2 linked regions of the Homo sapiens genome follow. The protein of the gene in region 2 interacts with the protein of the main gene of each other region in a biochemical or structural test. Each region holds a gene or a part of one and is shown on either strand. Other genes may lie near its edges.

Region 1 (4,217 bases), on a different chromosome or scaffold from region 2:
TTCTAATACATGCGGCTCACATATTGCTATTGGACAGCACTGGGCTAGAGGTAGGATGGTTGGGGCAATCTCAGGTATTCTGCCAGTGGTCCATGCTCTGACCTGAGACTAGGGATGGGCTGCTACCTCTCTGCAATTCTGCCCCCAAGGGACTCACCTCCAGCAGCTGCCTGGGTGGCATGTTCTGCTTGGTCTTCAGGGAATCAACGAGCTTCTTGAGATCGTTCAACTGTGGCTCAGTGGAGGCAACATAGTGTTTCCCCGCTTCCGTTCCCTCATGACCCAGCCAGTAAATCCGTGATAGCAGGAAATTCTTCTCCTCCTCTAGGACTTGATGCAGGAGTTCAAATTCTGTGAGGATCCTTTGCTTCTCATGTTCTACCTGGTCCTAAGAAACAGGGACAGGCAGAGGGTGAGAGGATGGCCTCGAAGGTCCTTCTAGCCCACTTTATTCAGCCATTAATTTTATTAAGTTTGTGTGGAATTCCCAACCAGAGCAATGTGCCAGGGCAGACCTGGAAGAAAGGAAAGGAGAGGAGAACAAACTTCTAAAAGCACCTACTACGTGCTCAGCTTTAAGCGAAATTATTAATTTATGGTTTACCACTTGCCTTCAAGGAACTGTCTAATACAATTCCAGAAGGCTTTTCAGTTTATAATCTTTCATATAGATTTTATTCCTTTCACGCACACAGGAAAATAGGTAAGTGGGGTCACAATGTCTTCATTTTCCTTCTGTCTTTTTTTTTTTTTTTTTTTGAGACAGTCTCTCACTCTGTCACTCAGGCTGGAGTGCAGTGCACGATCACGGCTCACTGCAGCCTCATCCTCCCAGGCTCAAACAATACTTTCACCTCCCAGCCTCTCTAGTAGCTGGGACTACAGGCGTGTGCTACCACGCCCGGCTAGTTTTCTTTCTTTTTTTTTTTAATTAAGAGGAGAGTCTCGCTATGTTGCCCAGGCTGGTCTCAAACTCCTGGGCTCAAGCGATCCTCAGCCTCCCAGAGTGCTGTGATTACTGGCGTGAGCCACCGCGCCCGGCCAATGTCTTCATTTTCTAATTGGGGAATCCGTTGAGGGCGCAGCTCGGCCTTAAAAACCTGTACTTGCGATTCTAAGACCAGCGCGGGTTTTCCGTGCCCCACCTTGTCTGCCGGTGGAGACTGAGCAGTCAGCCCGCTGTAATAGCGAGGCCGACGCGGGAGGTGATGCCGCCTGGCCGGTCAGGTGCTGAGGCGCCGAGGAGAGGACATGGCTCACTGGATCTTTTTCTGAGGGGTCAGTGTAATAGGGGATTCCAGGAGCTTTGGCAGAGATGTTTCTGCTTCCAGAGATCGTGGGATGGAGTTTTTCTTACCGTGAAGACATCGACCCTGTGTACACCTTGTGCCTTCACTTGTACTGTCTCCTTCTCCTTTTGCTGCAAGACTTGGATCTGCTCTTGAATCTGCCCCTGCGGAAAGAGGGCCGTTTGGACAGGCTGTGCCTGGAGATTTCTGGCCTCATAAAATCCTCCTGGTCTCTTAGGAGAGCTGGTGACACTCTCCAGGTGAGTCCTTGTGTAATTATTAAGGACTCGCCTTTCTCAAGCTGGCGGGGAAAGGGGTTGCTGAGAAGGGAGAAATCTGGAGCCTAAGTGACCTAAATGACCAGAACATAGTTATTTATGACTAACTAGGACTATGGATGGTGCTTTGGAATTATCAAAGAACTACAAACTTCCCTTCATCTGTCCTACCAACAACTTTAAGAGAGTTGTTTTGTTTTTGCCATTTGAAAGGTGAGGTACCTGAGGCTCAGAGAGGTAAAGTGATTCCTTGCAGGTTGTACAGTAAACTCACAAGACTGGGCTTGAGCCCAAACCTTCTGAGTCAAATTTTCACATCCTTTCCATTCTCCATTGCACCTTGATTTAGAGAGTCAGCAGTTCCCCAGACTCAGCTCTTTGAACCCACTGTGCCTGACTGCGAGCTGCCCACTCAAGCCCAAGGGGTGGGGGCAATGGGGTGCAAACCCTCAGTGGGAAGGTAGCAGTTTCCAGGGCCTCACTGAACTCCTGGGCTGATGGGGGAACAGGGAAGAAACCTCAAATGCCTACCTGATAATTCTGGGCAGCTTCTTCGATCAAGCTGACATTATGGGATTTGTGGTCCTTGGATTCACGACACACAAAACAGAGGAACTTCCCATCATCCTCGCAGAAATAGTGGAACATCTCCTGGTGCCTCGGGCATGTAGCCTCTTTCCTTTTGGACTGCACCTCAGAGGCTTGTAGAGCTTGGATTTTCTCCACCAGATTCCGCAACAGCGAGTTGAACCTGATTGCGTTCTTCCTTACGGAAGTTTTGCAGAGGGGACATTTGAAAAATCCACATGATGTTTCCCCAATCTGAGTGATGCATTTGAGGCAGAAATTGTGCCCACAGTCGATGGTGACAGGTTTCTGCAGAATGTCCAGGCAGATGGGGCAGATCACTTCCTCTTGCAGTTTGTTCACAAACTGCCCACTGGCCATGACAGAACAACAGGGCTGTTTCAAGACTGTAGGAAGCTGTGCCAAGTCTGTAGGAGCCCCGGAGTCCACTGTGGATACTGTTTCTAGGAAGGGAGAAGGGAGTCAGAGAAAGTGGAGGTCAGAGATTCTGCCAATTAGTTAGAAGAGCAGAGAGAGAGGAAAAGAAGAGGGAGAAAAAAATAAAGAAATGATAGAAAAGCGTAAAATTTAGGATCTAGAAAATATTATAAAGAGAGGAAAACAGATGGGCAGTCCTACCTTGCTACCTCTTGAGAACAAATGGATACTTTGAATGTGTAATAGGCTGCTTATAAAGTGAAATAAGTTGTCCTGAACTTTGGACTAAAGGTATGTTTGTATGGTGGTTGACTAAGATCAGAATGACCGGGGCACCAAACACCACTTATGGGGGATTTCCCAATCAGCTCTGAGTAGGGAGTGGAGGGGTGGGTGGTGATGCCTACTGAAAGGTCACAGCCAGTTCACTGCAATGCTTTGGGCATCTTGTATGCAAAGTTCAAGCCTTGGTAGAGCATCTGGAAAGTAGGGGAAGGGCAATTCTCTACCTCAGGTGCTTTGGCTCCTCACAGAATTTTGTGAAAATGTGGAGGTTATCATCACCTACCTTGGGGAATTTCCAGTCACAGGGTCAACCAACCACTCCCTAGCTCAGTAGGATAGGCAAGGAACTTCCTTTCTAAAGAGTTGTTCTTTGTTTTTGCACTTTGCTCTTGCCCCTGGTGATCTTCTGTCTCCCCACAACACCTGTAGTAGTCTGTCCTCTGTTGATTTTTTCTCTGTATGTCTCCAGTATGCTGGTGTCTCCGTGCCCATTCTTTGCTTTGCCAATTCTGTCTATATGTTCTTCTTCTTCCTTCTTGGTGCTTCTCTGATCCCTGACTTGCCTTCTATGGCTTTTGTTATGACTAGGAATATATCAACCAGTGTTACATACATTCCCTTCTGTACATTCATGTCCTAACCTTCCCTCCTTGCCTCTTGTCTTAAGGAAAAGGGTGCTTCCTCCCTACCCCTTCTCTTGGTATAGCTTCCACCCTCACCTCCTCACTCTCCATTATCAGCCGTCTGTCCCCAGCAAGAAGTACACCATTAATTTTTGTCTGATCTTAATCTTAGGTCAAACAGGGCTTGTGGATGATTATTATAATAATAGCCAGAGTGATCATACACTCTGCTTTGCCTGGAACCATCCTGGGTTTCACTTTGTCCTGGTGTAATTATTAATAGCACCTCCTTTCACTTTCAGAAATGTCCAGTTTGGACTATAAATTATGTGGCTCCCCTTATAGCAACTGCTGTAAACCAAAGACTTTCAGAAATGTTATACCTCCAGACCTTTCTTTTTGTTTGTTTTAGGGTTAAATTAAAACAGTCTAACATCTGTAAATTGTTTTACTTACACTCCTAAACTGCTGGCCCCTAGAAGCAGAATTTAACTTTTGACAGGTTTTGTTTGACTGGCATGATGATTTAGAAAATAATGATAATGTAGATGCCTTTAGAGAGGGTGGCTATGTTCCCCACCGCTCTGCTACCTCACGTCTCCTTGGCCCTTGAAGGCATTTGACATTATGACTCTGATTTATAGATTTATTTTGCTTATATTACCTCATTTAAGTCTCACCTGTAAGAAATTATCTTTATCCTTTCTCAAAAAAGGAACTCAGTATTCTTCAGAATC
Region 2 (3,500 bases):
CTCTATTGCGATGAAGAAAGAAAAATACAGTATCAAGGACAAAAGAAAGACTGAGCTTAATTACAAAGATTTAAAAAAAAATTTACATCGTGGCTTATTAGAGAAAGAACACTATCTCGCTCTCATCTCAAGGAAAACCATTTATCCCAAAATGCATAAATACCGTGCTTCTTTAAGTTGTATCATTCTTTCTAGAAAGAACTGGAGTCTTGGATTTAATCTCATAATATGAACAGTTTACTACTCAAAACCACTACAGGAACTAAATGACTCTGTCAATTCAAAAAGTTATCTCAAATAAAAACTTCACAATGCAATGATACTTTTGACAGAGCATTTATGAACTACAACCAATGTTTCAAAATCCTTTTGGAGGAGAGAAATTCAAAGTGATGAAACAAAGATGATCAAAGTTATATTACTGATTTACAATGTTAAACGATCTCAGCATGTGTTACTTTGGAGCAGAGATTTGCGAAGCACAATCAACACATTTGAGCAATGTGTCAGTGAAAATGATCAAATATGCCAAGGTCTTAATTATAACACCACTTTACATTTGTATAGAACATTCCAGTTTGCAAAGCACTTATATCCCATAAACCCATTTGACTCTATGTCTTCCAGTTTAAGTACAATAGATACGAGTTCATGTGGATAAGAGAAGCTATGTACTGAAGTGGTTAAGAATATGGAATTACATAAGACACATTAAATTTAATTTTGCTTGCTTCTACTTCCCGTTTTAAAAACGTGGCTACTAGGAAATTTAAAATTAAAATGTAGCTCACATTGTATTTCTATTGGATAGCATTGTTCAGTCAGTTTATTGACAGATTTTATTTGCTATCCTAGGGGGCACAATCATTGGCATATAAAAAGATTAAGACAAGGAAATAACACTCTCTCCACTAAAGGATTTGACATTTTAAGTGAAGTGTCACAGGTTCAGTAATAATATTACAGCCAAGCTTAAAAGCAAAATAAAAAGTAAAGTCATACAAAACTTTGTCAGGGAATGTGGCTGTTCTCTTCTATAAACAGATTACTGATATTAAATTATGGAAAGTGATTTAAGAAACAATGTTACCATCTTTAAAAGCCCACAAATTTGCTCTGCTGAACAAGGAGGAAAATGCTCTGCCCATGGTCTGGTTTCTAGAACCTGAATGTAAAGACAGAATAAGGCAAGTAGTACTCTGATATCGTTTACTCCTTCATTTTACAGAGAAAGAAAATGAGTCTTAGCCTGACTAGGTGGCTTATCCAAAATGTCATCATTTCAAAATTTAATCAATATAAAAATGTTTATAAATATCTCATTAGTAACAATTATTTAGATTTGTATACTAGGTCTTCAAATTCCAGTACATATTTTACACTTCAGCACATCTCAATTTGGATACTAAATTTTCGTCAGCAATATTTGATCTATATTTAGATTTCATAAAGCTCAAGGTTGAAAACTAAATTTTCATACCCAATTTGTTTCCATGTGGCTACTGGCTACATTAGACAGAAAGCTTTATAGTATATCTGGTGAGTTCAGTAATCTCAGTGAATGCTCTCTTCAACATCCAAAAACTATCATTCTCTCCTAAGAAGTGGAAGAGAAGGATCCTTGACTCTCTCTTCAGATAGGCAGTTTGGTAGCTTTCAGTAGCGATATGTAACTGCAACTATTTTTGTGTTAACTGGGCATGAGAAGGTATTAAATAAAAGATTCTAAGACTGAAAAAAAAAAAAAGGAATGTGGAATTGAAGCCAACTGTTTGTTTTGGAATCGTAGCATTGTCACTTACTAGATAATGTGATCATGAGTAAACTACTCAATATTTCCCTGCCTTAGTATCATCATCTGTAAAATGGAAATAACACTGTTTCTACCTCTTGGGTATACTAAGAATTAAGTCAATTAATATATGTCAAGTACTTAGAAGGCAGAGTAACGATTACAAACACCCTGGTTTTTGAGATCAGCAGCCTCATATGTATGGATATCCATACATATCCATTGTATGGAAATGTATGGAAAATATGTACTAGCCTCATTGTACGAAGCTAGTAAGCCACACAGCCAGGAATAAAAACCAGACCTTTGGCTGCGTGAGGTGGTTCACGCCTGTAATCCCAGCACTTTGGGAGGCTGAGGCGGGTGGATCACCTGAGGTCAGGAGTTCGAGACTAGCCTGGCCAACATGGTGAAAACCCATCTCTACTGAAAATACAAAAATTAGCCAGGTGTGGTGATGCAGGCCTGTAGTCCCAGCTACTCAGGAGGCTGAGGTGGGAGGGTCACTTGAGCCTCAGAGGCAGAGGTCACAGAAAACCGAGATTGTGCCACCGCATTCCAGCCTGGGTGACAAAGTGAGACCCTGTCTAAAAACAAAAAAAACTCAGACCTCCTTCTTCCATTTGATGCTCCGTCCATAGAGGGCTGGGTTAAGTATCCTAAAGTTTTCTAGACTGACATAAACAGTTTAACATAAAATTCTACAAATCAAAAAAATTCAGCAGCTCAAACATTTATCAAATTTGATTTTAATCTATGTCTCTCTATATATGTTTCAGATTACATTGATTATTAAAAAACAAAAACAACTAATGTTCCATTTGGGGGCCAGAATTACACACTAAGGAATAGTTCTCTGAGTTGCTATGTTTGTAAAACGGAACTCTATTGCCTCACTTTTCAAAAGACAAAAATGTAAATAAACTTATCACATCACATCACATCACATCACATAATGCTAGTATGATGTTCATTACCTCAAATTCTTTATCAAATAAAATCTATGATGATGACAATGACTGTTTTAGGATTTCCTTTTTTTTGCCCTTTAGTTTTCAAAACATTTGGTATTGGGATATTAACACCTGTAATTTAAAAAATAATCCTCCCCAAAAAAAGTGTTTCAAGTAATGAAAATAGTATTGATAGAAGAAACAACTTAGAAATTACTTCTAGAAAATAGATACCTAGGTGAAAAACTGTCCTCCTCTTTTCAGACATGTTTTAGGTATCTTTCCTTAGACTTTGTTCAAACTTTTTTTCTTTTAATGATTTAGGTGACTGCGATAACATCTTTCACTGTTATTTAAAAATAGGGCATGGGTGTGTAAATTTATGAGCTGGAATGCAAAACTGGCACACTAAATCAGAGCATTAAATCATTTAGTATATTCTAGTATAGTTAGTTTATTCTACTATAAAAATATATTTTAAGCATTGATATCTCCATGCTCTGTCTTTACATATAATTTTAATCCAATCATCTTTATTCTTTTTCATAGTGAAGAAATGTGAAATCATGAACTTTTTAACACTCTCAAATAGCCAAGCCAATTAAGAGATTATTGGCCGGGTGTGGTGGCTCACACCTATAATCCTAGCACCTTGGGAGGCCGAGGTAGGTGGATTGCCTGAGCTCAGGAGTTCGAGACCAGCCTAGGCAACACGGTGAAACCCCATCTCTACTAAAATACAAAAAATCAGCGGG

Evidence for each region. Proteins that work in one complex are often made in the same cells at the same time.
Region 1: the proteins of UBE2D1 (region 2) and TRIM31 form a complex in vitro, tested with the Homo sapiens proteins (4 studies listed by BioGRID).

Annotation. Positions count from the first base shown.
Region 1 is NC_000006.12:30,110,291-30,114,507, forward strand, and holds the start of TRIM31 (E3 ubiquitin-protein ligase TRIM31), read right to left. Parts: upstream 2,801-4,217; 5' UTR 2,774-2,800; intron 2,599-2,773; 5' UTR 2,516-2,598; coding exon 2,099-2,515; intron 1,550-2,098; exon of another isoform or gene 1,454-1,549; coding exon 1,358-1,453; intron 389-1,357; coding exon 158-388; intron 1-157.
Region 2 is NC_000010.11:58,338,006-58,341,505, reverse strand, and holds part of UBE2D1 (ubiquitin-conjugating enzyme E2 D1), read right to left. Parts: intron 1-3,500.